2 separate regions of the Homo sapiens genome follow, and region 2 is linked to region 1. The links come from fine-mapping of genetic effects on gene expression. A gene starts in region 1. The other region holds a variant in brackets. All regions are shown on one strand. Distances are from middle to middle.

Region 1 (15,000 bases):
GCGGGCGCCAGGCTCGCCCCCTGCGGAGGGAGGCGAGGAGTCCAGAGAGACCAGGGGCGGGGGTGGGGGCGGGGGCGGGGAGGGCCGCGAGGGCTGGGGAACCGCGCACCGTGGAGCCCGTATGGCCGGAAGGCGCGGCGCTCGGTCAGCACTGACAGCAGCGCCTCCTCACGAAAGAGCAGCTCGCGGGTGACGCCGTCGCCGCCTCGGAAGCGGCCTCTGCCCCCCGAGCCCCGCCGCAGCTCGAAGCGGCGCAGGATGACCGGGTACCTGCGAGGGCGAGGACGAGGGCAAAGACTCAGCGTGGCCCGAGCCCCGGCTCCCACCCGGCCGTGCCCCCAGCCTCCGCGCACGCCGCTCACCGGCTCTCCAGGATCTCAGGGTCGGTGATGCGTGTGTTGGTCATGTGGCTGTGCACACCGCTGCGCCCGTGCCAGCTGGGACCCGCGCCCGCGCCGCCCGCCACCGTCTCGTAGTAGCCCATGTGGGCGTTGCCCAGGGTCACGTTGTTCATGCAGCCCTGGTGAGGGCACCTGGTCGCTGCGCTGGGCTGGGGCAGGGCGTCCCCACCTCGCCCTCCCGCTCCTACTCCAGCCTGCCCACCCAGTCCGCCCCCGAGCTGCGCCCACCCCGCCCCCGCACCTGGGAGGCGGCGCAGGCCCCAAAGGCCCCCAGGATGACATCCACCACGCGCTGCGACGTGAGCACGTTGCCGCCCACCACCGCCGCCTCGGGCGACGGGTCCAGGATGGAGCCTCGGGGAATGACCACGCGCACTGGCGCCAGGCAGCCCTGTGCGGGGCGGGCGGCTCTCAGGAGCTCTTGGGGTGGGCTCCGGGAGAAACAGCACCCCACCCCCCGCCCCAGCACCCGTGGGGTCAGACCGTGGCTGGGCCCAGGAGGCGCACTCAGGGTGACCTCGGGCTGGGGCCCCCCCTCGCGCACACACCCCTGCGAACCTGGTTGAGTGGGATGTCGCGGCCCACCAGACAGCGCAGGCAGTAGATGAGGGCGGACAGGGTTACGGCCCGCGGTGCGTTGAGATTACCAAACACCTCCGGCCCAGTGCCGCTGAAGTCAAACACGGCGCTGCCCTGCGCGCCCCGAGGGAAGGGAGAGGCTGTCAGCGGCCGCACCGTGCCCCTGCCGCCTAGAGGCACTCTCCCCACGGCCCACCTGACTCAGGCTGATCTGCACACGGAGGCGGATGGGGGAACCGTCGTCCATGTGGTCTTCCGAGGACACCTCCAGGGGCAGGCCCCGGGCCTGCCGGGAGGTTCCAAAGGCACGCAACATGTCTCGCACGGCCAGCTCAGCGTTTGCCTGGCAGGGAGCAGGATCAGTGGTGGCCAGGTCACCTGCAGGATGGCCCTGCCGCCCACACTCCTGTGCCCAGGCCCACCTGAATATGGCCCATGTAGGCCTGCACCACGTCCAGGCCGTACTGCCCAATGAGCTCCCCCACCAGCTGGATGCCCTTCTGGTTGGCTGCCACCTGGGCACGGAGGTCCGACAGGTTGTCGTGCAGGTTTCTGGTTCCGCTGCAGTTGGGGACCTTGCCTGGCGCCCGCAGGGCCTCCGTCACCGCTGGATGGACAGTGTCATCACTGAGCCCCTGGCCAACCCTGTCTGCACCCCCAACCCAGGTTTCCCAGATCCAGACAAGGTCTCTGGCCCCTAGAAAGCACCGAGGCCTGGCCTGGGACTGCTCAGCACCTCAGGAAAGCCCCTCTCCTTGAGCCTGGCTCAGGGTCCCCTCTGAGGCAGCCACAAGGCCCTCTGCAGTGTGCCTGTGCATGTCCCTCTGTGGTCCACAACCCCTGCCCCAGCTCACATTGACCAAGGGAGCAGCCAGCAATGGGCCACCCTATCTGTGTCCTCAACACCCAGAACAGCCTGTGGTTCCATTACACCCACCCTCTGCCACCACCCTCCACCCTGGCCACGCCACTTCCCCTGGGCTCCCAGACCTGCAGCCTCAGACCAGGGCTGTTTTTCCCTGTCTCTCCTACCCCCACCCCCACCACAGGCACCCCTGCAGCCTCCATCCCCCCTTCCCTGCAGCTGCTCAGTGCCAGGCCCTCCACCTCCAGCTGCCCAAACTTGACCCCTGGCCCCCTCTCCCAAATCCCTCCAAATACCCACCTCCACCTCTAAAACTGTCCCCCACCCCCCGCCCTCGCTCTCCACTCAGCCCAAGACATCAGCATCATCCAGGGCAACTGCAGCTTCCCCCCACCTTGCCCCCCAGCCTCCAGGCCACTCTCAAGACCCCGAATCCTCTCTGCACGTGGGCACAGTGGGAGCTCAGCGCAGGCCCAGCTGAAAGCCCTTCACGGCCACCCACCACCCAGTGACTCAGACCTAGGCCCAGAAAACTCTACAGGGGCCTTTGGGCCCTGCCCCTGCCCTGCTGTTTCTCTGCGGACCCCACCCAGTATGACTGCACACACCACAAGCAGCCACCCACCTTGAAACAGGCTTCTCTCTCCAGCACCCTGACCCTCCACGTCTTGGCTAACTCTCCACCCGCAAAACCACCCCTCGGGAGGCCTTCCTGGGCCCAGGCTGAATTCATCTCAGCTCCCGGGATCCGATCTGCAGCTGCCCTTTGGGGTAACCACCTATCTCCTCCCAGCCTCAAGGCAGGCCTGGGCCTATGGGCTGCATCCCACGGTCCAGCCAGGCCTGCTTGCCAGCAGTGGCCATGTGTCCCAGCCTACAGAAGGCCTGCCCCACCCCACTCCCACTCACCCTCCTCCTGGAAGACGCCCCCCTGGACAAGTTTGAAGGACAGAAAGACGGCACCCTCCTGTTGCAGCATGGTGGAGTGGGGGGGCATGGAGCCTGGTGTGATGCCCCCGATGTCTGCGTGGTGCCCTCGGCTGGCCACATAGAACACAGGCCGCGTCTGACCCGGCCAAAACACCTAGCGGGTGGAGAGCCACGGTCAGCTGCATCGGCCACCACTGCCCCAGCAGAGGCAGGCGGGCAGCACCCCTCACCGGTGTGATAACAGTCAGGTCTGGCAGGTGGCTGCCCCCGGCACTGGGATGGTTGCTCAGTAGCACGTCGCCAGGGTGGAGATCGGCCCCCAGGTGCTGAATCTGAAACCAGGAGATGGGTGCAGAGTGGGCACAGGGGAGCAGGGGCCAGAGCGGGGTGGGGGGGGGGTGGAGGGTGAGGGAGGGGGATGGAAGGGTGAGGCGGGGGAAGGGCCACCTGGAACTGCACCGTCTCCTGCATGGCACCCAGGTGCACAGGGATGTGGGGGGCATTGGACACCAGCCCCCCATCGGGCCCAAAGAGGGCACAGGAGAAGTCCAGACGCTCCTTGATGTTGGTGGAGATGGCTGTGCGCTGCAGGATGCGGCCCATCTGCTCTAGGAGCACAAAGTGACCAGGCCCGCTGGCCCCACCCACCCACAGCCTGGCCCCAGGAAAGGGAGGAACAGGACCCACCAGGACTCAAACCCAGGACCCAGGAAAAACCCAGCAGCTTTTTCCTGGGGAAGACCAAGTTGACGGTGTGCCCACTTGGCCACGTCTTAGCCTATGTAAAGGACACCACCTTCCCCAGCCCTGCCTGGAGCCCCCAGCAAGAACCCAGTGCCACCCCTCGACCCTCCCACCCTGCCTGGCACAGCAAGAACCTGGTTCCTAGGCTCTTGACCTCTGGGCTCCCAGCAAGCCGCTGGCCTGACCCTGCACAGATGGGTTCCCTGTGCTGTCCTCAGTATCCCTTCCTTAGCTAGGAGGGCACTCTCTGGATCACATGGCTGCAGGTAAGGGGGGAAGGTGTCCTCCCTGCCCAAGGTTTGTTCTCATGGCCAACTGCACCACACCAGTGCTGCGGCCACACTGCCCGCCCCGTCGCCAGGGGGTCCTGCTTCTGCCTCTCCCTTTGGGCACAGCCCTGCCAGCTACCCCATGACACAGCCGGCGCCTCATCCCACAGGGAGCCTGGCAGCGGCCACTCACCAGCAATGCTCATGAAGCGGTGTGAGAAGATGGACAGCTGGATAGGGTCCAGCTGGGGGCCCACTGTGCCGGGGACTTCGGCCCCCACGGAGATGCAGATGTCCCCTGTCTTGGTCACCTCTGCCTGGCAACCTGGCTCCACCAGGATGGTGCTGGGGAGCAGAGGGCACAGAGGGCTGCATGGGGCCAGGCGACACCCCTCCAACCAGAGATGCCACGGCCCCAGGCCAGGGGCCACCCCAACGATGGTGGGATACAGAGTCCTGCAGGCCCCTGCAGCCTTGGGCCAGAGAACCCTGCACCAGGGGCCCCGCAGTGGACCCGTCCACATCCTCCACCCTGGCCGGACTTCAGCCCACCTGTTACTGTCGATGATGAGGCAGGGCCCATGGAGCTTGTGCCCATAGCCCAGCTCTGCCAGCAGGTACACAGGGGTCTCCTGGTAGCCCCCCTCAAAGTAGCACTGGGTCATCTGCAGAGGGTGCGGGTGAGTACAGCGCCCGGGCCCAGCACCCTCCCCGATGCCTCTCACAGGGCTTGGTCCCCATCCCGGTGCCCCATGGGTGCTGTCAGGCTGGCACAGGCAGGACCACCAACCTTGTCCACCCGGGGAGGCCCGGTCTGGGCTTTGGGGGCATCCTCGAGGCGAAGACCACTGCGGCCGGTGCCCCGCACTCGCACATCGTCCACGACCACCGGCCGCTCAGGTATGACAAAGCCAAACTCCCTCATGTACCTGCACTCCCCGCGGGGACCCAAGGAGTGGTCAGAGTGAGGCGGCCAGACAGGAGGGCCCCTTGCCAGGGATCCGGAGTCAGGAAGCCACGTACCGCTCCACAAAGGCTGCCCCGAAGTCCCCCGCACGGGGCGAGCGGGCTGTGGCTGGGTGCTGGTGGGCAGACACCATCAGAGCACAGTCCGTGCCCTGGTAGCGCAGGTGCAGGAAGCTCTCAGTGCTGATCTGGGACCTGCAGCAGGTGGTTGGGGGCACTCACACCAAACCCCCTGCCCTGACCCCACCCCACCCAGCGCCCGGCAAGGACACCTGTTCTGCTTCTCGCACACCCCGGGACCACCTGGGAAGTCATCAGGAGGAACACCCACCAAGGGCGTGGTGAGGACAACGTAAGCCCTCTGTCCAGGGCACCCTGGGAGCCCACCTGGGGAAGCCCTGGGCCTGCAGAGCATCCACACACTGCTCCTCCAGGCGGCTCAGCCTCTGGTCCAGCTGCACGAAGGTCTCAGGCGCGTAGAGCAGGGAGCAGGGTTCCTGTGCCTCATGCACCACGTCAGCCAGGGCCAGCCCCAGGGCCGACAGCAGCCCACTGTGCCTGCAGGGATGGGCAGCATGGCAATGGGAGGTCACCTCCCAAGCCCGGCGCAGATCACACCACCTCCGTGCACCCACACCCAGGCCCACCTGTGGATGTGCACCGTGTCCATGCCCAGGGCCCGGGCGATGGCACATGCATGCTGCCCACCAGCTCCCCCAAAGCAGGCCAGCACATGGGCTGAGGGGTCATGGCCTCTTGCCTAGGGAGACAGAAGGGGTCAGTGGGCTCTCCTACTCTACCCCATCCAGCCCCCAGCCTGAGCAGGAGGCCTGGGGCAGGGAGCAGGGCTGGGGGCAGGACAGGCGGGAGAGCAGAGGTGGACGTACCTGCGTGAGTGCACGGATGGGCCGGCACATGGCCTCGTTGGCCACGCGCACGAACCCCATGGCCACCTCCTCCAGGCTCAGCGGGGAGGCCGGGCAGGGCCCGTTGGTCAGGAAGCTGTTGACCTCAGTGGCCACAGCCTCCAGGGCTTTGCGGGAGGCCTCAGGGGAAAGTGGTTGGTTCTCTCCCGGCCCAAAAATGCAGGGGAAGGAGGCAGGCAGCAGGCGACCCAGGACCAGATTAGCATCCGTCACTGTCACAGGGCCCCCTGGGAGGTGGACAGGGTGTGGGGCTTGGGGGCTGGAGGCAGGGGAGCAGGAGTAGGCAGCAGGGATAGGGCTGACAGGAGGGGCTGGGCCTGCGGCGGCAAGCGGAGGGCAAGGCCAGGCCGGCCAGATCCTGACTCTTACCTTTGCGGTAGCAGGCGGGTCCTGGGTGGGCTCCTGCTGACTCGGGCCCAACCACAAAGAGGCCAGACCTAGGGGAAGGAAGGGCTGGGGTTGGAGTTGGACACGAGGAGGGAGACAGGGCTGGGGTCCCAGCCTGGGAAGCAGGAGAGCTGACCTGAAGAAGAGGCGGGAACCCCCTCCCGCTGCCACGGTGTTGATGTCCAGCTGCGGGGCCTGGAGGGTGACGCCAGCTGTGCTGGCCTCGAAGACGTGCTCGAATTCCCCAGCATAGCGGCTCACATCCGTGGACGTGCCTGGCAGGGGTGGGGTGCTGGTGGGTCACTTGAAGACCCAGGGGCCCAGCAGCTGAGCCTCCCCGAGACCCCAGCCCTCGGCCCTCATACCTCCCATGTCAAAGCCGATGACAGGCTGGCCACCCTCCTGCTGGTAGGTGGTGGCTGAGTAGCCCACCACGCCGCCGGCCGGGCCCGAGAGCACAGCACTGGAGCCGCTGAAGGTGTCCATGGGCGCCAGGCCGCCATCGGAGCGCATGAACAACACCTGCACATCCTGCGAGCGGGCAGCAGGCGGGCCATGAGGGGCAGGCCAAGGCCCAGGCCCAGGCCCAGGAGTGGGCAGTGGGGGTGCCTCACAGCCTCACCTTGAGTTGGCCCTGGAAGCCACGGCAGAAGCCCTGCACGTAGCGCTGGATGGCGGGCGTGAGGTAGGCGTCGGCACAGGCCGTGTGCCCCCGAGGGACGATGCGCACCATGGGCATGGCCTCCGAGGACAGTGACACGTGCGTGAAGCCCAGCTCCCGGGCCAGCACACCCACCTGCTGCTCATGCTGGGCCCACCTATGACAAAAACCCAGTGGCACCTCGTCTCCCACCAGGCCCGGCACCTGCTCCCGCAGCCCACAGCCCCACCTCACTCACGTGTACGAGTGCATGAGCACCACAGCCAGGCTGCGGATGCCTCGAGATAGCAGCCCCTCCAGCTTCCCACGCAGGGCCCCCAGGTCCACAGGCTGCTGCACTTCCAGCAGGTCCCCCGTGCGGCCTTCCAGAAAAGCCCAGGAGGCCCCGTTAAAGGCCAGCAGGACCCTCCGGCCCCAAATCCCACAGCAGCGGCGGCACACACACCTTTCACAGGCGTCCCGGTGCCCGCCTCTCCACGGTGCAGCACCACGCGTTCGTCCACCTCCAGCACCTCTTCATACAGCACCTCAGGCATGGGCACGGCCTGGGGGCGGGCAGAGACTCAGAAGAGGCCCAGGCCTGAGGGTCCAGGCCGGGGTCCTGTGTGAGTGGGTGGTACAGGTGAGTGGCTGTGTCCCAACAGGCCGGTCGGCAGGCCCAGGAGAGTCATACCTGGCAGCCCCAGCAAGGCTCACCAAGGGGGCAGCTCTCCACCCCCTAGGCAGCTGAGTGCAGCCAACTGCTCCACCCCCACGAAGGCAGCTTCTTCCGGAAACGCAGCAGTAGGTGCGGGGTTCCACCCCTCCTCTGCCTGAACAGGGTAGCTTGGGTGGCCCCACACCAGCATCCAGGGTGGGCATGGCGGCAGGCAGGAACAGGGCATCCTGTGCCCACTCCGAGGGCTAGGAGAACTTGGGGTCCCACTGGGAATTCGGGAGCTTCCTCTTTGTCGGCTGGTGCCCATGAGCCATCACTAATCCAACAACTGCTCTCCCCACAGGGTCAAGGCATCCCTGGGGGGTGTACACCACACAGCCTGGTCCCCAGCCAACATGGAGCTCACCAGGTCAAAGAGGTCCCCACGGGCTTGGGTGCCAATGTGCAGCAGGTCTCGGAAGCCACGTGTCACCAGCAGCGCCACCCGCTCCCCCTTCCGCTCCAGCAGTGCGTTGGTGGCCACTGTGGTGCCCATGCGGATGCTGGCGATATGACTGGAGTCCAGCGGCTGGTCCCGGGGCAGGAGCATGCCGGCCTCCTGGGGACCACGTGGTCAGTGTGGGGCTTCTGGCCGTGGGGTCCCTGTCCACCCGCTCCGCCCTGGCCCACCTGCTCCAGGATGCGGCGGATGCCTTCGGTTGGCGCGTCCGCATAGTTGGCAGGGTCCTCTGAGAGCAGTTTTAAGACCCGCACGTGCCCCCCTGGGCACTGGGCAAAGACGTCTGTGAAGGTACCCCCACGGTCGATGGCAAAGTGGAAGCGGCCCTCGGGGCTGCCCATGGTGGTGGGGCTGGAGTCCCACAGGAGCTCTTCAGCTGGTAGCCCTGGAAAAACTGGACGGAGGCGGGGTCAGCCCGGGCTCACCTGCGAGTGGGACTAGAGGCTCCCCAGCCCTGCGCATGCGGGGGGTTCCTGAGGGAGAGACCCACGGGCACGACTCTGGGAAGAGCCAGAGCCGCAGGCCCAGCTCCGAGGGCAGCCTGGGCCCGAGCGAGAGCCTGGCCGGCGGTCAGCGGCCTGATGCCCCCATGCCCAGCATCGCGCTTCTCCGGGCCCTGGACTGGGCCGAAACCCAGGCAGCGGAGCAGGCACGGGAGGTGGGGACGCCGCTGGACCCTGGAGCCCTCGGGCGGGGTCCCTCAGCACGAAAGAGGCACGGGAGTGCGGGGAGGGGGTTTGGGGCGAGCTGGCCGGGGGACCCCACTTCCCGCTTTGCTCGACCTTCGACCCAAGCCTGGCGGGCCCCGGGACAGGACGGAGCCTGAGCACCGACGGGGCGACCCGAGGCGGGGACGCGTGAGGAGCGGCCCGGGAGGCAGCGGGGAAGGGGCCGCGGAGGGGAAGCCCGGGAGGCAGCGGGGAAGGGCCGCGGAGGGGAGGCCGCCCGGCGCAGGCCCCACCTGGCGCTCGGCTCCGGCTCGGTCGCTCGCGGTCGGCTCTGCCTGCGCTCCCGGCGGCCCTGCCCGCACCAGCCTCGCCTCGGGGAGGAGCCTACAGGGCCCGCCCCCCGCGCCACTGGTCCCGGCACTCGCGGTTACATCAGGCCGGGCCCGCCCCCCGCGCCTCCGTCCTCGCCCTGCGCTTCCCCGGGCCACGGGCGCAGGATCAAGGGCACCTTGGCTCTGCGGCCCTCGGGTCTCCGGCGCCGGGCCTGGGCTCGCCTAGCGTGGGCGCCCCAGGATCCCACCTCCAGGTGTCCTGGGCAAGGGGAGCTGGCAGCCCAGGCCACAACAGGGCTTCCCACTGGCGGACGTCCTTCCCCGTGGAGGGGGCGTTGAAGGACAGAGAGGAGAGGGGAGGCCCTGCGGCCTTCTCTACCAGCCCCAGCTCCCGGCCCCGTGGGCCTCTCCTGTGCGGTATCTCTGGCCTTCTTCACCGGGTCTCCCTCATCTCCAGCCCTCCTTGTGCCAGAGGCGTGTGAACCAGAGCAACTCCATCTTGAATAGGAGCTGGCTAAAAAGAGGCCGAAACCTACTGGGCTGCACTCCCGGACGATTAATGCATTCTAAGTCACAGGATGAGATAGGAGGTCAGCACAACACACAGGTCATAAAAACCTGTATCTCCCAGCCCGGCCAACACGGTTGAAACCCCCTCGCTACTAAAAATACAAAAATTAGTCAGGCATGTGGCACGCGCCTGTAATCTCAGCTACCGGGAGGCTGAGGCAGGAGAATCGCTGGAACCCGGGAGGCGGAGGCTGCAGTGAGCAGAGATCGTGTCACTGCACTCCAGCCCAGGCGACAGAGCGAGACTCCGTCTCAAAAAAAAGAAAAAAAAAAACCCTGTATCTGATAAAACAGGTTGCAGTAAAGAAGTTGGCCAAACCTACCAAAACCATCGTCCTACACTCCCCGCAGCGCCATGGCGGTTTACCAGGGCCACAGCAACGGCACGAAGTTACCCTATATGGTCTAGAAAGGGGAGGCATTAATAATCCACCCCTCGTTTAGCATATCATCAGAAATAACCATAAAAATGGGCAACCGGCCTGGCACGGTGGCTCACGCCTGTAATCCCAGCACTTTGGGAGACCGAGGCGTGTGGATCATGAGGTCAAGAGATCAAGACCATCCTGGCCAACATGGTAAAATCTGTCTCTACTAAAAATACAAAAATTAGCTGGGCGTGGTGGCACGCACTTGTAGTCCCAGCTACTTGGGAGGCTGAGGCAGGAGAATCGCTTGAACCCAGGAGGCGGAGCTTGCAGTGAGATGAGATCGCACCACTGCACTCCAGCCTGGCGACAGAGTGAGACTCCGTCTCAAAAAAAAAAAAAAAAAAATGGGCAACCAGCAGCCCTCGGGGTGCTCTGTCTATGGGGTAACCATTCTTTATTCCTCTACTTTCTTAATAAACGTGCTTTCACTTTAGGCACTCGCCCTGAATTCTTTCTTTCAAGAAATCCAAGAACCCTCTCTTGGGGTCTGGATTGGGACCCCTTTCCTGTAACATTTGTGCCAAGGGCAGTGGACTCCAGCTCCCCATAGACAGGGATGGGGCCCAGGATCAGGCACTTAGGAACCCCTCCCCATGGATGGGCTGCTGCTCATGTCCAGATGACTGCCCTGTAAGTGGCACGTGCCTGCTGTGATGCCACCCCCAGACCCCATGCCCATGGACCTCCTAGTGCCTTCCCATCCTGAGGCCCAGCTGAGGCCCCAGATGATCATGCCACGCCCACATGCAGGAGCCCCACCTGCCTGCTCTGAGCAGTCCGTGGGAAGCAGCTCTGGTCAGCAACCCCACTTCAGCCGAGGACCTTCCCCACCAGCCATACAGCCTCTGCCTGGCCAGCCCACACTCCTGCGGGACTGCCCTGCCTTCTGGTTTCCACCCATCCCCAGCACAGCCTCTTGGTCCTGCCTGTCAGCCCAGGATCTATCAGGAGAGATTCCCACACCCCACCCACCCACACCCCCACCATCTGCTGCCCTGTACGCACTCAGGCTGCCCGCCAGGCCTGTGCTGTAGACCCCAAACTCTCTCACTGCCCTCCACCATCCCCAGCCACCCCCTCGCCTCTCTGTTCACTCCAGGGGCCTGTGCTATCCACTCACAGACGAAACCTCTAAGGGCCTGTCCCCACGCTCCCTAGCGGCATCCCACTGCCGTGCACCTCCAGGTGTCCACCTCCCCCACCTCCGCCTGCCTCCTGGGCTCTCCTGACCCCACTCCACTGCGCGTCTCGGGGGCAGACCAACAAAAGCCAACCCCCACCCACCCAGGCTCAGGCCTCCCTTGGCTGCCCCACCTGCCTCCTACCCCACTGGGCCTTTATCTCTGTCCCTCCATGTTGCTGGGTCCCAGCTTCCCCTTGGCAATGCCACGCAGCCCCTCCACAGCAACCAGAGGCAGCTCCAGGCCTGCGGGATGGCCCGGCCCCTACTCTCTAGTGGCGCCTCTGACTGCATGGCCAGACACGTCCCAAAACCAAGCCCCAGGCCACCTACCAGTGGCCCACTCCAGCAGCGGCTCCCCCACCCAGCGAGCTGCCCCAGCCCCATTCTCATCCCCACACGCAATCTGCCAGAAGTCCTGTTACTTTCACCTTCAGAACACAGAGCTGCTACTTCTCACACCTCCACCCCGGCCAGGCTTCCATCACGTTCCCCCAGGGATATGGCTGTCCCCACCACCAGAGAGCGCAGGGCTGGGAGGACAGAGTCTGCCGTTGCAGTGACTCTGACAGCTTCAGGCACAGACAACTTGCACCCACCTCAGGGCCTGGCACAGGCTGTTCCCTGGGCCTGGAAAGCCGCGCCCCAGCCTGGCAGCTCCCTCGCCCGCTCAGGCTCTGCTCAGAGGTCACTTTCCCAGACCTGGCACCTTCTCCCCGCCGCACATCCTGGAAGAGCCCCAGGGCCCTGGCTTTGCTCCAGAGGCACCGCAGCACCCAGCGGGTTTGCCCAACTCCACAGAGTCTTGGGGCCCCGGTACGGCTCACCTCTCTCAGCATTCTTGAATTTGATCGTTCTCCGCCTGGGTAGCCAGGGACTGGCAGCCACCTCAGCCAGGAACCCGGAGCTGCAGAAGCCCAGGCTGCTGCCGCGGTTCCTGAGCACCAGCTTCAGCTCCTGGTTCTCCTGGATGAGCTGCACCAGCCGCCGCAGCTCTTCGTTCTCCTGTGCCAGCCGCTGGATCTCCTGCCGCAGGCCCTCATAGCTGCTGAGGAGGGACATGCCTGGCAGCCAGCGGCGGCAGCTGGCGGGGGCCAGCAGGCCGGCCAGGGACAGCAGACCCTGCTATTGTGAGGTCAGCAGCTGCCCCTGCCCCCTCGCCTCAGCCGCATTCCGGGCCTTCAGGGTCAGGACCCAGCTGTTCCAACCACCCCGTGGCAGAGGTGGCCTGACCTCTGACCTCCAGCCCCCTGAGGGCCAAATGGCCAGTGGGTGCCCAGAACTGTCCCAGGTCTCTGGCTCACTCCAGGAATCCTCCTCCTAGAAGATGGAAGCTTCTTTGACCCGGCCAAGCCCAGGTGTGTCGTGGGGGAAGGGATATGGGATGCAGGCTTCCGCACCCACCCGTCTGACAGCCCACTGGCCACCAGCCACAGCCTCCAGGCCTGGCCATGCCAGGACATAGTTTTAGGCAACCAGGTGTGGTATGTCGGCAGTCACGGTTGGCACAGCTTCTGAAGGGATCAGGAAGGGTGGGTGCGTGGCTGCCCTGCAGGATGGGGCCCAGCAACAGCAGGAGCTGGACAGCAGCAACCAGGGCAGGCCAGGGCTACAGGGGCAGAGCCAGCCGAGAGCACGCTAGGACAGCATGGGAGGGGGCTGCAGGCCAAGGGATGCACCAGGCAGTGCTAGAGCCACCACAAGGGAGGCTGGGCCTGTTTCTGGGGGCACAGGGCCTTGGCATTGTCACATGGAGGTTGCAGCGAGCAGGCAGGTGCCCTGGAAGAGGCACCACATCTGGGCCATAACCTCAAGGAAGGGGATGGGCCAGGCGGCCCACCAGAGGCTGAGGACCAGGACCTAAAGACACACCTCCCCAGGGACAGGAGAGCCACCCTCACCCTCAGTGGTGACAGTGGTTTGCATTTTAGATCACATAAAGGACTTTCTTCTTCTATCCAATCTGTCTTTTTTTTTTTTTTTTTTTGAGATGGAGTCTTGCTCTGTCGCCCAGGCTGGAGTGCAGTGGCGCCATCTGGGCTCACTGCAAGCTCCGCCTCCCAGGTTCACGCCATTCTCCTGCGTCAGCCTGCCAAGTAGCTGGGACTACAAGTGCCCGCAACCACGCCTGGCTAATTTTTTTGTATTTTTTTTAGTAGAGTCGGGGTTTCACTGTGTTAGCCAGGATGGTCTCAATTTCCTGACCTCGTGATCTGCCCACCTCAGCCTCCCAAAGTGCTGGGATTACAGGCGTGAGCCACCGCGCCCAGCCTCCAATCTGTCTTTAAAGGGACACTTCTGCACAGTTACTTTGGTTTTCTGGCTTTTTCTTACATTATGATTATTATGTATTTTACATCATTTTTCTCTTTTGCTTGTTTGATGGTCTAGTTTCCACTTGCTGATTTGTAGACTGTCCTGGGATTCTCAAACTCCTTTCCCTGGCTACTCGAGTGGAGCCATCGCAGGGCCCCTCACCTGTGCGAGTGGGGGCAGTGCCCCTGAGACTAGTGCTCCAGGAGACTGGGGGCAACTGTACTGAATCCCAACAGAAATTGTGACAATTTAATTCTCGGCCGGGTGCAGGGGCTCACACCTGTAATCCCAGCACTTTGGGAGGTTGAGGCGGGCAGATCACCTGAGGTCAGGAGTTCGAGACCAACCTGGCCAACATGGTGAAACCCCATCTCTACTAAAAAAAAAAATACAAAAATTAGCTGGCCGCGATGGCAGGCACCTGTAATCTCAGCTACTCAGGAGGCTGAGGCTGGAGAATCACTTGAACCTGGGAGGCAGAGGTTGCAGTGAGCTGAGATCGTGCCACTGCACTCCAGCCTGGGCAACAGAATAAGACTCTGTCTCAACTACAATAAAATAATTCCTATAATTAGGAAGAAAATGGAGTAGAGTATTTTTATTTTTTTATTTTATTTTATTTACTTTTTTTTTTTTTTGAGATGGGGTCTCACTCTGTCACCCAGGCTGGAGTGCAGTGGTGCAATCATAGCTCATCGAAGCCTTGACCTCCCAGGCTCAAGGGATCCTCCTACCTCAGCCTCCCAAGTAGCTGGGACCACAGATGCATGCACCACCATGCCTGGCTAGTTTTTTTGTTTTTTTTTTTTGGTAGAAACAGGGTCTCGCTATGTTTTGTTTTGTTTTTTGAGATGGAATCTTGCTGTCACCCAGGCTGGAGTGCAGTGGCGTGATCTCAGCTCACTGCAAGCTCTGCCTCCCGGATTCAGGCCATTCTCCTGCCTCAGCCTCCCGAGTAGCTGGGACTACAGGTGCCCGCCACCACACCTGGCTGATTTTTTTTTGTATTTTTAGTAGAGACAGGGTTTCACCGTGTTAGCCAGGATGGTCTCTATCTCCTGACCTCGTGATCCCTCCGCCTTGGCCTCCCAAAATGCTGGGATTACAGGCGTGAGCCACTGCACCTGGCCCGGGGTCTCACTATGTTGCCCAGGCTGGCCTTAAACTCCTGGCCTCCTGCCTTGTTCTCCCAAAGTGCTGGGATTACAGGTGTGAGCCACCACACCTGGCCAAAGTAGAGTTTTTCTCTTTTTTTTTTTTTTTTTTTTTTTGAGACAGAGTCTCACTCTGTCACCCAGGCTGGAGTGCAATGGCACCATCTCGGCTCACTGCAACCTCCGACTCCTGGGTTCAAGCAATTCTCCTGCCTCAGCCTCCCAAGTAGCTGGGACTACAGGTGTGTGCCACCATGCCTGGCTAATTTTTTTGTATTTTTAGTAGAGACAGGGTTTCACCCTGTTGGCCAGGCTGTTTTCAAACTCCTGACCTCAGGTGATCCACCCACCTTGGCCTCCCAAAGTGCTGGGATTAGGGATTACAAGTATGAGCCACCAAGCCTGGCCTGGAGTAGAGTATTTCTGATAGTTGGAGAGATTTTACCCCAAAAGAATGAGGCTCG
Region 2 (15,000 bases), 92 kb before region 1:
CCAGCCTGGGCAACAAGAGCGAAACTCCGTCTCAAATAATAATAATAATAATAATAAAATAAACAATAAAATAAAATAAAAACTTAGGCCAAGCCCAGTGGCTCATGCCTGTAATTCAGCACTTTGGGAGGTCAAGGCGGGCGGATCACCTGAGGTCAGAAGTTCGAGACCAGCCTGGCCAACAAGGTGAAACCCCGTCTCTACTAAAAATACAAAAATTAGCCGGGTGTGGTGGCGGGTGCCTGTAATCCCAGCTACTCAGGAGGCTGAGGCAGGAGAATCCCTCTAACCCGGGAGGCGGAGGTTGCAGTGAGCTGAGACTGCATCTCTGCACTCCAGCCTGGGTGATAAAGCAAGACTCTGTCTCAAGAAAAAAAAAAAGAACTTATAACAGTTTACATTCTTCCCTTCACTAAACTTTAAAAATCAAAATCGTGTTGGAATAGAAAATATTCACGTGACTCAAACACTGAGAGTAGACAGAGAAGTCTTGCTCCCCTCCCTTCTCCCTGTCTCCCCCCACCCACACACACAGTGTGAAAATCACTGTTAGTGGCTTCCTGTTTGTTTCTCCAGAATTTCTTTACAGAAAATCAAGCAAATACCATGTGATTCTTGGTTTTCTTCCTTTTAACACAAACGGTGAAATCTTCCGGGCACCATTCTGCCCCTGCTTTCCCACCCACCCCACAGCTGGAGGCCTCCCGCTCTGCACGGGGACCGTGACCCACGTCTGGCCATGCAGAGCGGCACGTGTGGGCCCAGCCTCTGAGCGCACTCAGGCCAGTGACCATCGTCTGCTCGGACACACACTGCGCGTTTGTGGCTCTGACAGACGCTTTCTCTGGCCTGGTTCCCACAGCTTCAGCAACAGAACCTAGAAATCCAGATTTTTGATTTTTGCCAATACGATAGGTAAAAAACAGTATCTTGATGTAAATTAAAGCTTAAATTTTGAAAACCACTTGACCCAGAAATTCCTTTTTTTTTTTTTGAGACAGAGTCTTGCCCTGTCGCCCAGGCTGGAGTGCAATGGCGCGATCTCAGCTCACTGCAACCTCCGCCTCCCAGGTTCAAGTGATTCTCCTGCCTCAGCCTCCTGCGTAGCGGGGATTACAGGCGTGCACCACCACACCCTGCTAATTTTTGTATTTTTAGTAGAGACAGCGTTTCACCATGTTGGTTAGGCTGGTCTCGTACTCCTGACCTCGTGATCTGCCCAACTCGGCCCCCCAAAGTGTTGGGATTACAGGCGTGAGCCACCGCACCTGGCCAGAAATTCCCTTTTTAACAACAGTCATAGAGATGCACAATGACCCAGCTACAACACTGTTCACTGCAGTCATTTCTAATACAAAAATCCAAAATTAAACTCCGTGTCCTAGGAGAAAGGATTGATTGGTTAAATATGATATGGTTTCCATACAGGGGAATGCTGTATTGTAAATTAATGTCACAGAGAGATGCCCAAGCTGTATCACTAAGTAAAAGAAGTTACTTATGTCTAAAATACTTCATAACATTAAATCATGAAATTACAGATAAATTAACACACACTAAAGAACACTGTGCATGCTTTTTTATTTTTTTATTCTTTTTGAGACAGGGTCTTGCTCTTGTAGCCCAGGTTCACTGCAGTGTTGACATTCTGGGCTCAAGAGATCCTCCCACCTCAGGCTCCCAAAGTGCTGGGATTACAGGCATGTGCCACCTGTAATCACGTGCCCAGCCCACTGTGCACGCTTTTTAAAACAATGACTATGGAACAAAAATGTGTAAGTTCTACATTAACCAACTACTGCAGGATGGCTGGGTAGGTCCAATGGTGGCCACAAAAAAATCTATGTCCATGTCCCTGGAGCTCATAAATGTGGCCTTATTTGTAAACAGGGTCTCTGCAGATATAATTAAATAAAGGATCTTGAGATGAGATCATCTTGGATTACCTGGATGGGCCCTAGATCCAAAAGCAAGTGTCCTTAGACGAGGAGAGACACAGAGGCAGGGATTGGCATGATGCAGCCACAAGCCAAGGGGCAGTGGAGTTGGAAGAGGCAGGCGGCTATTCCTAGGCTCTTCCCGGGTGCCTTCGGAGAAAGCGTGGACCTGCCGACACCGGATTTTTAACTTCTGGCCTCCGGAACAATCAAAAGATAAATTTCTATTGTTTTAGGGCGCCCTGCCTGTGGCTCTTCCCTGTGGGAATCAAAGGAAATCAATACAGACAGCGAGCAGGAGCAGGGTGCCTCTGTGACGAATATCTGAAAATGTGGATGTGGCTTTGCAATTGGGTAATAAACAGAAGCTGGGACATCTTGAGGCACACAGTAGAAAAAGCCTAGCCTGTCTGACCAGACGGTTGGTAGAAATATGGGTATTAAAGGTGCTTGTGGTGAAGCCTTAGAAGGCAACGAGGAAAGTGGAGGAAAGGTGCTTCTCACATTGAAGCGAAACTTCGCCGAACTGTGTTCACTGTCGGGTGCTCAACAGAACTTGTAAGCAATGAACTTGGATATTTAGCTGAAAAGATTTCCAAGCAAAGTGTGGAAGGTGTGGCTTGGCTGCTTCTTGCTGCTTATGGTAAAGTACAGGAAGAAAGAGATAAATTGAGGAAGGAACTATTAAGCAAAAAGGAAACAGCATGGGTGATTTGGGATATCTGCAGCCTATTTAGATTGCAAAAGATGCTCATGTTGGGAGGTTCACTGTTAGGAAAGTGTGTTCTGCAGAGAAAGCCATCTCTGCAGAGATGAGGTATGTGACTCATGGGTCCATTCACTCATCTCAACAGAAGCCAGGAATAGAGACAAGATTATCCAGGGAGGATCCGAGTGAACCCTTCTCTCTAATGGCCTGGCTCCCTGTGACATACAGGGGAGACCCAGAAGGTTTATGAGAATGTTTTACCAGCAGAAACACTGCCTGCTTGGATTGATGGGAACAGAGACAGGATGAAATGAAGGAAGGTATTGGGCTTCTGAGAGTCTACAGGCAAGAAACAGGATGACAGACCCAGGCAGCTGCAAACATGTGCTACCCTTTGAGAAAAAGGAAGAATGACTCCAAGGTCAGGGCCTTAGGCCTAGAGGCAGAGGCTGGCAGAGGTGCAGGTGCAGAGGGTGGGGCACTGAGCCACAGAAGAGCATTCACGGGCCTTGAAACCCCACGGAATTTGCCCTGCTGGATTTCAGACTTGCTTGGGACTGGCAACCCCTTTATTCCTTTATATTTCTCCCTTTGGGAATGGTGATGTCTAGTCTATGCCTAGCCCAACATTGCAGTTTGGAGGCATAAAACTTGCTTTCTAGTTTTACAAGTAAAAAGATGGAGAAAAATTTTGCCCCCATCTGGATCCTACCCAGAGCCTCACCAACACCTGATTTAGACACAACTTCGATGATCAGATTTGGGACTTCTGAGCTGATTAAATGTTGTTCTTGTTTTTTTCAAGATGGGGTCTCATTCTGTCACCTGGGTTCAGCCTCCAGGGTTAAGCAATCCTCCTACCTCCACCTCCTGAGCAGCTGGGACTACAGCCATGTGCCACCACACCTGGCTAATTTTTTTTTTTTTTTTTTTTTGAGATGGAGTCTTGCTCTGTCACCCAGGCTGGAGTGCATTGGTGCAGTCTCGGCCCACTGAAACCTCTGCCTCTCGGGTTCAAGCAAGTCTCGTGCCTCATACACCTGAGTAGCTGGGATTATTGGTGTGTACTACCATGACTGGCTGATTTTTGTATTTTTAGTAGAGACAAGGCTTCACCATGTTGGCCAGGCTGGTCTCCTGATCTCAGGTGATCCACCCACAGGCCTCCCAAAGTGCTGGGATTACAGGCGTGAGCCACTGTGCCTGGCTAAGCGGATGGAATTTTAGACTTAGAGCTGATGCTACAATAGGTTGAGACTTTGGGGCATGTTGGCATAAGAAACATTTATTTTGGAAGTGGGGCAGATGTAAGTTTTGAGGGACCAGAGGACAGACTGTAGTGGGTTGAATGGAGGTCCCCAAAAGATATGTCTATGAACAATTCCCTGGAACCCATAATTGGTATCTTATTTGGAAAAAGGGTCTTTGCAGGTGTAATTAACACAAGGATCTTGAGATGAGATCATCCTAGATTACCCAGTAGGGGGCCTAGAACCAATGCCAAGTGTCTTACAAGAGATGGAAGAGAAGCCACAGGGGAGAGGGCCACGGGAGGATGGAGGCCGACACTGGAGTGATGCGGCCACGAGCCCAGGCACCGATGGCCACCAGGAGCTGGAGAGGCCAGGAACAGAGTCCGCCCTGGAGCCTCCGAAGGAGCGTGGCCCTGTCAACATCTTGATTTTGGACATGTGGCCTCCAGAACCGTAAGAGAATACATTTCTGTTGTTTAAGGCCACCCAGTTTGTGGGTACGTGTGACAGCAGCCACAGGAACCTAAAACAGGGCACATTCTCTGGGGGTATCTGTATTCTGTAAACAACCATGCATTCTTGTGGCAGTCATGACAGTGGCGTCCAGCTGTGTCTCTTAGGCCTATCCTGTGCCTGCTCTGTTAGCTTCCCAGGTAGCCACTCGTTTAGCAAGAAAGAAGAGAAAGAGATGCACTTTCAAAAGGTCAAAAGACACATTCATTTGAAAAACAGAGCAGAATAAAAATCATAAAAGCCACAACCAGAGACCTTTACTGCAGCTACCTCCTTCTGCTCCTGCAGACCCACACTTCCAGCCCTGACCAGCCCCACTCCCCCAACCAACCCCCACCCCCCCGCCCACCCTGGTGTGCCCCTGTGGATGGCCTTCCCCACCCTCACCGTCCCACTTGGCCCCAGCCCACCTGACACACCAGCCTGCCCAAGAGCACCCAGACTCACACCAGCCACCCTGATGCCGTCCTGGGGCCTTCCTTTCCTGCAGCACTGGCCCTGGGTCTGCCGCTACTCCTGGAGCCACACAGGGACACAAAGTGATCCCCATCCCATTCCTGGTCCTGGGTCTCCTCTGCCTCCAGGAAGAAGCAGCAACAGTCCTGCCAAGAGCTGACCACCAGCTGGGAGGACTCTTCTGCAGCTAACCAGGACCCAAATCCTGGAGAGCAGGCCCCACAGGCTGATGTCCCAAGTCCTACAGGATCCTGTCTTCCCAGCTGGCACCCTCCTTCCACCGTCTGAACGCGTGTTCCCAACTCCCCTTCCACTGGGCCTACAGATGACCCGGCCCATGCCCCATTTTGGGTCCCTGACCTCATGACCCACGGCCCCTGCTCTCCCAGCCCCGCATCTCCCTACCCACTGTGGGTCTGTGGGCATCACCCATGACCCCAGCGGTGGGAGATCTGGGCACCTGGTCCCACTAGCATCGCCCTTCCCAGCCTCCTCCAGTCCCTTCTTGAGGTACCTGGCCCCTGGCCCCTCTGCTGCCAGCTCCTCTTGGGCCTCACTGGGGAAACTGAGGCCACAGGGCACCACTGCCCACACCCTCCCAACAGCCCAACCCTGGGAAAATCTCCAGGGCCCTCAGTGGTGAGCAGCAGTCTGGACTGGCCACTGATGATGTGTGGCTGGGTAAATGTGAGCGACCACTCAGTACTCACCCTGGGCCAGGTGATGCCCATGCCCCCTGTGACCATGCAGGTCCCTCAGGCCAAGGCCCAGGGAACTCCTTCCCCAGGGAACTCGGGCCAGCATCCAGCTGAGGCTGTGACCTGCTGCGGCCTAGCCTCCATGTCACCGCTCTGTCCTGGAGAGGGTTCTCCCTCCCTGCCACCCTGCTGGACCCACCATAGCCTGGCACCAGCAGGGCCTCCTGAGCACTTCCCACATGCCCCCTGGCACCTCCAATCCGACGACACCCCAAGCAGTCCCGCTGAGGTCCCAACACCCCTCATCACCTGGTCCCAGCACCATCCAGGCCTCACCCTGCTCCCAACGTGGCCCTGCTTCCTCACGCCCCTTCCTCCTTCGCAGACCCAACAGGCCCCCATGGCTGCACAGCTGCCCACTGCTCTGCTTCCCGGCTGCCTCTTCTCATAGGCACCTAAGCTCTGGAGGACCCCAGGCTCAGAGCTCTGGCCCGAGGCCTGCCCTAGTGATGGCCTCCCAGCCTGGCCTCCCCACCTCAGCCCAGCATTTCCTGCACCTCAGTGTCTGCACACGCATACCTATCTCACAGGCATCTCTGATTTTATGCACCCAAGGCTAAGCGCTGGCTCTTCCGCCCTCTCTGCCGCAGGCACATCCTCTCCACCCCAGGCTGCTCTCTACCTCCACAGCCACCACGGGGGACTCCTCAGCCGCTCCTTGGGAGGCACCAGGCCAGGATCTTGCAGGGGTCCAGCCAGCTCCAAGTCCACCTATCCCTCCCACCCAACGCTTGTTTCAAGCCACACCTGCCACAGGACAGGGCGGGGCTCGGCTGGGGGGGTACAAAAGTGAAGCAACACATAGTCCCCGCGTCAGGAAGCTGGATTCTGCCACAGGACAGGGCAGGGCTCGGCTCGGGGGCACAGAAGTGAAGCAATACACAGCCCCTGCGTCAGGAAGCCGGATTGGTGGAAGGGGAGATGTTTACAATCATCCCTGTAACCCACAAGCCCACGGCCAGACCCTATGAGCGTGACACCAAGCATGACATCGAGCCTCCTTGAACATCTCGACCTCAGCCCCAAGCAAATTCCACAAAGATTAACGACAGAGATGTTTAAAAAAATGCAGCAGTGCTGGAAGCAACTCTCAGCAGATGTTTTTCTAAAAGAAGGCCATTTTAAGCATAGCATAAAATCCAGAAATCATAAAAGACTGGTGAGTGTTAAAAATTGATATGGCTAAAGAAACCACAGACAGAATTAGGCCAGGCGCGGTGGCTCACGCCTGTAATCCCAGCACTTTGGGAGGCCGAGGTGGGCAGATCACGAGGTCAGGAGATCGAGACTGTCCTGGCTAACACGGTGAAACCCCGTCTCTACTAAAAATACAAAAAATTAGCTGGGCATGGTGGCGGGCGCCTGTAGTCCCAGCTACTCGGGAGCCTGAGGCAGGAGAATGGCTTGAACCCGGGAGGCGGAGGTTGCAGTGAGCCGAGATCGCGCCACTGCATTCCAGCCTGGGCAACAGAGCGAGACTCCATCTCAAAAAAAAAAAAAAAAAAAAAAAAAAAGAAACAGACAGAATTAAACAAAAATAGATGCGTGGTGTGAGACCCATCCATGGTGTGCCCAGTGGGGACTCAGCAGGAACTTTCCAGGAGCTGAAAAGTTCTGTTCCGTGAGCTGGTGCTGCCCACAGGCAACTTCGAAGTTTACGCCGAATACAAGTGTCCCTCGGTATCAGCGGGAGATGGGTTCTGGACTCCCCATGGATACCAGAATCCACAGATGCTCAAGTCCCTGATGTAAAAAGGTGTAGTAGCCAGGCATGGCAGCAGCTCACACCTGTAATCCCAGTACTTTGGGAGGCCAAGGCAGGAGGATCCCTTGATTCCATTTCCATGTGAGCACAGGAGTTTAAGACCAGCCTGGCCAACAATGCTTGTGAATAGGCAGTTCACAAAAGAAAAGGTGCAAATAGTCAACAACTCTAGGAGATGTGCTCAGCTTAATTAATAATCAAAGAATTCAGGCCAGGCGCGGTGGCTCACACCTGTAACCCCAGCACTGAGGCTGAGGCAGGTGGCTTACTTGAGGTCAGGAGTTCAAGACCAGCCTGGCCAACATGGGGAAACCCTATCTCTACTAAAAATACAAAAATTAGCCAGGTGTGGTGGCGCACACATGTAATCCCAGCTACTCGGCGGACAGAGGCAGGAGAATTGCTTGAACCCAGGAGGCAGAGGTTGCAATGAGCTGAGATCATGCCACTGCACTCCAGCCTGGGTGACAGAGCGAGACAGAGCGAGACTTCGTCTCAAAAAAAAAAAAAGGAAGAAAAGAAAACATTGGTGTAAAGCTTCATGACTTGGATTAGACAATGGCTTCTTAAATATGGCACCAAAAGCACAAGCAACCAAGGAAAAAGATAGATAAACTGGAGTCATAATAATTAAAATTAAAATGTACGTGCTTCAAAGGACACCACCGGCCAGGTGAGGTGGCTCACGCTGTAATCCCAGCACTGTGGAGGCTGAGGCCAGGAGTTTGAGACCAGCCTGGCCAATATGGCGAAGCCCCATCTCTACTAAAAATACAAAAATTAGCCAGGTGTGGTGGCAGACGCCTGTAGTCCCAGCTACTCGGGAGCCTGAGGTACAAGAGTCACTTGAACCTGCTCCAGCCTGGGTGACAGAGCAAAACTCCATCTCAAAAAAAAAAAAAAAAAAGACACCAGCAAGCAAATAAAAAGGCAGACCACAGAAACAGAAAATGTTTGCAAATCATATTTCTGATAAAGGACTGGCATCTAGAATATATAAAGAACACTTACAACTCAAAAATACCAAAAGGTAAATTCTAAAATGGACAAAGGATTGAAATACACATTTCTCAAAAGATATAAAAAATGGCCAACAATCACACCAAAGTGTTCAACGTCATTAGCCATCAGGAAATGCAAATCAAACCACAATGAGATTCCACTCGACACCCACTAGGATTGGATGTCTGCAATCAAAGAGTCAGATAATAACAAGTGTTGGTGAGGATGTGAGGAAATTGGAAACCTCGCACCCGGCTGTTACTGGGCATGCAGAATGGCACGCCCGCTTTAGGAAGCAATCTGGCAGTTCTTCAAAATGGTTAAATATAGAATTACCACACAGCTGAGCAATTCCACTCCTAGGTATCTACCCAGCAGAAATAAAAAACATACGACCACACAAAAACGTGTATGCAAACGTCCATAGCAGCCTCACTCATAACAGCCAAAAGGTGGAAACAACCCACTATCCGTCAACTGATAAACGCATAAGCAAAAGTGGGCACTTCCACACCACGGAACCGACTCCAGCGGGGGGAGGGTGAGGTGCTGATGGCGCGGCGATGTGAGCAGCCCTGACAGCGTCCCGGCAAGTCGAAGAGGCCAGACCCAGGGCCAGTACAGGCCAATCCATAACCATTCCTGTCTGCCTGAGCCCCTCAGCCCCCCCATTCTCCCTGTCCCCCATCCAGGGCAGATTCCTCTGGGGCTGAGGCTACTGCAGCCTGTGGC[A/G]GGAGAGCTCTGGGCACCCTATGGGAGAGGCCTCCGTGCTGAGGGCTGTGGGCTGGTGACTTAGACAGTCGGCCCAGCTGCCAAGAGGTGTCCAGTCGCCCAGCCCCCCAAGCCTGGCCTGTGACAGCTCATAGAGGCTGGGCCGTCCTGCCACACCATGGGAGCCTGGAGAGAGACCTGGGGTGGGTGTGGCAGGGCGGGGACAGTTCTAGGAGAGAGTTGTGGCAATGCAGGTGAGTGGAGGTGAGGCGGTCAGTGAAGAAAGAAAGAGCGGCCCAGCAGCAGTCCAGCGTTGTGGGCAGGGGCCTGTCCTGGGGGTCAGGGCATGAGTGCAGGCCGGGGAGTGGGGAGTGGGGCCAGCCGGGGGCCTGGGCAGCTGGGGATAGAGACTTTAGGTTGTCATGTTAGGGATGGGAGTGGGGCTTAGGGGTGCTGTGAGGTGGTCCTGGAGAGGGCAGCAGGGGTGAGAATGAGGCCGGGGTGAGTACCGTTGGTGAGTGGGTGGCGTTGGTGTGGGGCAGGGGCCAGGGGTGGGAGGCCTGCATTGGTCTGGGGGAAAAGCGGGCCTGGAGAGGGGCTGGGTGTGTTGGGTCTCCACAGGGCGTGTGCCCAGCCTGTGGCCTGCACTCTCTTCAGGACCCCTTGCCAGCCCTGGGCCTGCCCAGTGCCACTGTGCCTGGCCCCCTCCTCATGTGTCCCCTACTCTCCCCTGTCCTGGACTCTGAGCTTGGTTATCTGTGTCCCTGGCACTGGCCCCAGGCCCTCAGCCAGCACTGCAGGGTGTTTGCACGGGTGAGTGGGTGATGGCGTAGGGCGTCATCTGCAGTGGTTGGTGCTCAGCTGGCAGAGGGCAGGCTGGAGGTTATTTGGGGCTCACTGGAGAGGAATTTTGGTCGGTGTTTACTGTCAAAAGTAAAACGCTCCAAAAAAAAAAAAAATCAAGCAGGGTGGAAGTATACAAAGAAAAACGGGGAGAGTCACACCTCTGGGTTCAGGCTCCCGGCTGGGGCGATCGCTGTGCATGAGAGAGGGCGGGAGAGAGCACACGGATTTGGCCGCCCCTTTACAGGGAGCTCAGACTGAGATTTCCTCTGGAGCCACTGGCTTTTCATGTCAGTACCAATTAGGTTGACCTCATGCTGATTATTAGTATTTTTTAATAGCTTTATTGAGAGGTAATTCACATGCCACACCATTCACCCATTCAAAGCGTCCAATTCAGTGGTTTCAGTAGATTCGGAGTTGTGTAGCTGTCAATTCCAGGATATTTTCTCACCCAGCCCCTGGCAACACCGCTCTCTTTTCAGTTATGGACTGGCCGCCTCACCTCCACTCACCTGCATTGCCACAACTCTCTCCTAGAACTGTCCCCGCCCTGCCACACCCACCCCAGGTCTCTCTCCAGGCTCCCATGGTGCGGCAGAACGGCCCAGCCTCTATGAGCTGTCACAGGCCAGGCTTGGGGCGCTGGGCGACTGGACACCTCTTGGCAGCTGGGCCGACTGTCTAAGTCACCAGCCCACAGCCCTCAGCACGGAGGCCTCTCCCACAGGGTGCCCAGAGCTCTCCCGCCACAGGCTGCAGTAGCCTCAGCCCCAGAGGAATCTGCCCTGGATGGGGGACAGGGAGAATGGGGGGGCTGAGGGGCTCAGGCAGACAGGAAGTTGGCGATGTTCCAAGCGGAGCAGTGGCCGCCTGACTGTACAGGGAAGACCGGGGATTTCCAGGGGAGAGCCAGGGAATGACGTGTCCAGGGGAGGGTCTGAGACGTTGTGGGGTGGGGGGTGAAGGTCACCGGAGTGAGGGTCAGACAGGGAGTTGTCTGTGAGAGGGCACAGTGAGGTGGAACCGAGGCAATGCCACAGAGGGGAGGAGGCCAGGAGGCCTAAGCCAGAGCACCTCCTCAGTGCAGGGATCAGCTGGGCAGGGGGCACAGGCCTGGCCTCCCTGCCCTCCTCAGAACCACCAAATGCTGAGCTGGGCCCAGGACAGGGGCCCGCAGCTGCTTACCATGGAGGGATTTGGGGCTGCCTTGCCGTCACTGGCTGGCTGGCAAGGGGTGCCATGCCCTCCCACAGTCCCTCCACCCCAGGGACAGGAAGGGCCGGGGCTCCAGCCCTCTAGCAGGTCCAAGGGGCTCACAGAGGTCAGGCCTGGAAAGGTGTAGGGCACAGGGGCCACCTCTGACCTCCTGCAGGCCCTCCTCAGCCTTGGTCCGTGGCTCCCAGACACAGGTACCAGCCCAGCCCCTCCCGTCCCCTTGTCTCAAGCCAGGAGCTAAGGAGACTTGGGGTACCTGGTGTGCTCACGGAGCCTCAGCACCTGCCTTGCTGTTTAGCCACTCTCAGGCCAGTGCCACACACATGCGGGCAGCTGCACCATCACGTGACAACTCCACTTCAGGCAAGCCCCCCGGCCCCCCTGCCCCCTCACCAGCCTCCACCACCAAGCCCAGAAGGCAGACAATGGGCCAAGACTGCGAGTGTGCCCAACACCAATCCTGGCCTCCAGAGGAGCTGCGCTTGGGAGGGAGGACCCTGACAGAGGGTCCCAGCAACCTCCAGGGATCTGTCTGGCTCACCCCTGGATGAATCAGAAGTAGTTCCCACCCCAGGAGGTAGAGGAAAGACAGCCCTGGGGCCAGGAAAGCCTCAGCACAATGCCCAGAACAGGCTGGGGCACCCCAGGCAGCCCAGCAACCTGACCAGATGAAGAACTCCAGGAGGAAACGATCCTGCACAGTTCCCGCACTTTGAACAGAGTGGTCAGCTCAGAAACAGCTCTGTCCTGGGGCTTGCCAGGAGGGCTGGAGCCCAGGTGGGCGGCTGCTTCCCTGCCCTATACCCCAGCACCCCTCCGGGTGCTCCCTCTAAGGCAGGGCCGGCCATGTAGAGCATGAGCAACAGGCTGCCCGCTCCAGGCCTCCCCAAGGGTGCAGGAGTGTCTCCCCTGGCCCGAATGAACTAGTCACACAGGCAAAGCGGCTGGGCACAGCACTGTCAAAGAGAGCCACAGCAGTACATCCACCCTGCCCCAGAGCCGTCGCTGGAGGACGCCTGAAGGAGATGAGTTCGGGGCACCATGAAACCTACCCAGCTGGGCAAGGTTGTGGTGGAGAGCGGCACCACGGGGCCCCAGCAGGACCTCTCTCCCTGAGCTGCCCTTGGGGGCAGAGCCAGCAAAACCAGCCACGTGGAGCTGGAGTCTGCTCTGATCGGCTCTGCCTGGGGGCCCCCACCGCGACCCTCCCCAGCAGCTCAGTCCCTTGCTCCTAAGCCTCTGCAGGCCGGCAGCCAATGCTGTGTCCACAACCGCCTGGAGCCGGGCGACCCAGGCTGAGCCAGGCAGCTGGGCTGCAAGAATGGCCGGTGGGACCAGGACCTGGGAGGGTCCAGGGGCTCCCCGTGGGCGTGGACTAGGGCAAGGGGGTCTGCCGAGGCATCAAGCAGGTGGGCAGGCCACTCTGATGCTCCCCTAGAGAGGAAGGAGGGGCCACCCTGACCCCTAGCCCACAGCTGTCCCCTAGTGAACAGAGAAGGGGTGTGGGGGGGGTGCCCTGCCAAGGAAGGGTGGCAGCCCAGGCCCTCGCCAGTTTAGGGAGGTGAGGAGAGGCGGCAACTATGTGACCCATTGCCAGGCGGCGGAGCTGCCCCTGTTCCATGCAGACGCGCCCCAGAGGTGGGGCAGGGGATGGCTCAGCCTTGACCCATGTGTCTGCTGGCCACAGACACCGGATCCTGGCTCAGACAGCCGACCCCGACAAGCCCTGAGCGCCCCCACCCGCCCGCGGCCCACCCCACCCACCCGAGCCGCGCGATGCCCTATTAAGGGCATGGCCTCGGGGGCTCAGCGGAGCGAGTCCTCCCCTTCCCTAGGCACTGGCAGCCGTTGGGGGCGATCCAGGCGGACGAGGCCGGCGGAGTGGCCGCGCTCGGGCCGGCGATCGGGACCGCCACCGTGGACGACAAGGTGCTCGGCGGCTGGGCTGTCAGGAGCGGCCCGACAGGCAGCGGGACGGGGGGCCGTACCTTTGTACTTCTCGCGCACCTCCTCGTAGGCCTGGATGAAGTCCTGCTCGTCGGGCAGCGGGCCGGCCATGCCGGCGGGCGCGGGGCGCGGGGTGCAGCGGAGCCTCCAGCACCCGGCGGCCACTCTGTCCCCGCGGCCGCGCGCGCCGCTTAAAGAGGCCGCCCCCGCCCCGCCCCCGCCCCGCCCCCGCACCCAGGATGCCCCACGGGCGGGGCGGGGCCGGGGCCGCCGCGGCCGGGCAGAGGGAGCCGCGTCTGGGCCCCTCCCGGCGGGCCGGTTCCGCGGGCTCCGAGTCCCGCACGCACGCCCTTTCCCGTTCTCGCCCGGGTCGCGGCCGCCGACACCGCGGTCGCCCGGGGGTCCTCGGGTGGCCCCCGCCCAGGGGCGGCCGCGACCTGTCTGTTCCCCGCCGGGCCGGCGACCTGCCTCCGAGACGCTCCCCTGCCCGCCCCCCACCTTGCTTCCTGCGTGCAGCTGAGAACTTTCCCATTGCAACATTGGAGACGACTGAGTCGGTATAAAGAACCCTTAAAACACTACACACAAGAAAAATTAAGTACACATACGAGGACTGGAATAGCCCATTCACAGAAGGAAAAAATGCTTGGTGATAATTAAAACAACTCTTTCCACCCATCAGATTGGCAAAGCCCCCGCTCTCCCCGCCTTCACCAATGTCGGCCACCCTGTCTGGGATGCCCCTGGCCGTGTTTTCTCCAAGCTTAATGCCATATGTCCTGTAACTGCAAGTCCCGCTTCCAGGAATCGGTCCTAAGGAAACCGTCAGAGGACGCAGAGCCCCGGCGCGGAAGGTGCTGGCTGGGGGCAAAGCCTTTGCAGTGAGTACCGAAGGCAACCACGGTCAGCCGGGGCCTCGGGACCCCCCACACTCCTCCACAACTGTAAAGGTGATGCTGAAGAAAGCCCAGGCGTGGGAACGACACAAGTGATTCCCTTTCAAGTGGGAAGAAAGTGACTTCTTTCTTTAAAGTCCGTGTGTGCTGTGAAAAGCCCTGAAGGTCATGCAGATGGAACCAGACCCTGGGGCTGGAGCTGGGTGCACAGCAGTGACCCTCTCCTTCCCTCTTTCCTGCTCCTACCAGCCCCGCTTCCCGTCGTCTGCAACATCCCCCCAGGGCTCAGCACCTGGCCTTGCAGCCCTCTCCTGGCCTCCCGCAGGGGCCTCCCTGCCCTCCGGCTGGAACAGGTCAGGACTCTCAAGCCAAAGCCTAGAGAGCTACTGCTCCTCCCTCTCCTAGCACAGCTCTAGGTCACCCACTTCCCTCCTGCCCTCCCCCTTCCCCAAGCATCTCGCTGGATGCTTCCCATCGTTCTCCCTGGATGGGGAGCTACTGGAAAGCAAGGCCAGATCCTGGCTCAGGAAGAGGCTGGGGCTCCAGACAACCAGGTACCCCCTCCCTATACACTGCTCCTGTACATTCCCACCTGGCCGCCATTGTGGCAGCCAAGACCGAGGGCCTGGTGGGGAACCCAAAAAATTATCCTTGTTGCATCTGGGCACTGGACCGTGTTAAAATCAAGGATGGACGCCGCGGCAAGAAGCCCAACCCCAGGCCTCATGAACCGCCTGGGCGCGGCCGGCAGGTGGCGCTGTGCCGCCTGCACTCACCTGGGACGCGCGAGGCCCTCCGTGACCCGCAGATCCCCCTAGGCCTCCCCCACCCAGTCCCCGCTCCAGCGCCTAGCACGCAGCGGGAACTCAGTCAACCTCGCGTGCCAAGGAGGTGCACAGGCAAGGCCCTGCGCAGTTACCTGCGATGCGAATGACCGCCCGCTCAGCTGGGTCCAGGACACTCCCGTTGCTCCCAGCGCCACCCCCGCTGCG

What was found.
Region 2: its variant is fine-mapped to the expression of OPLAH in monocytes (TOPMed, PIP 0.98).

Annotation. Positions count from the first base shown.
Region 1 is chr8:144,051,807-144,066,806 of GRCh38, forward strand. OPLAH (5-oxoprolinase, ATP-hydrolysing) reads right to left here and starts at 8,886. Exons shown (of 27, transcript NM_017570.5): 1 at 8,847-8,886; 2 at 8,056-8,279; 3 at 7,793-7,984; 4 at 7,174-7,273; 5 at 6,967-7,090; 6 at 6,690-6,885; 7 at 6,433-6,598; 8 at 6,204-6,342; 9 at 6,050-6,117; 10 at 5,642-5,907; 11 at 5,402-5,514; 12 at 5,142-5,312; 13 at 4,812-4,949; 14 at 4,579-4,717; 12 more. The coding sequence starts at 8,226. MIR6846 (microRNA 6846) reads right to left here and starts at 5,574; the gene lies at 5,515-5,574. It also overlaps a transcript of EXOSC4 not described here. RefSeq lists enhancers at 54-949, 9,094-9,614 and a silencer at 8,693-9,302.
Region 2 is chr8:143,960,250-143,975,249 of GRCh38, forward strand. It overlaps a transcript of PLEC not described here. Among named protein-coding and RNA genes, the nearest start is that of PARP10, 19 kb to the right of the region's middle. RefSeq lists enhancers at 4,546-5,323, 5,324-6,101, 6,102-6,878, 11,604-12,453, 12,454-13,301 and silencers at 13,035-13,494, 13,505-13,634, 14,671-14,720, 14,741-14,810. The variant A/G (reference allele first, on the strand shown) is at 9,126.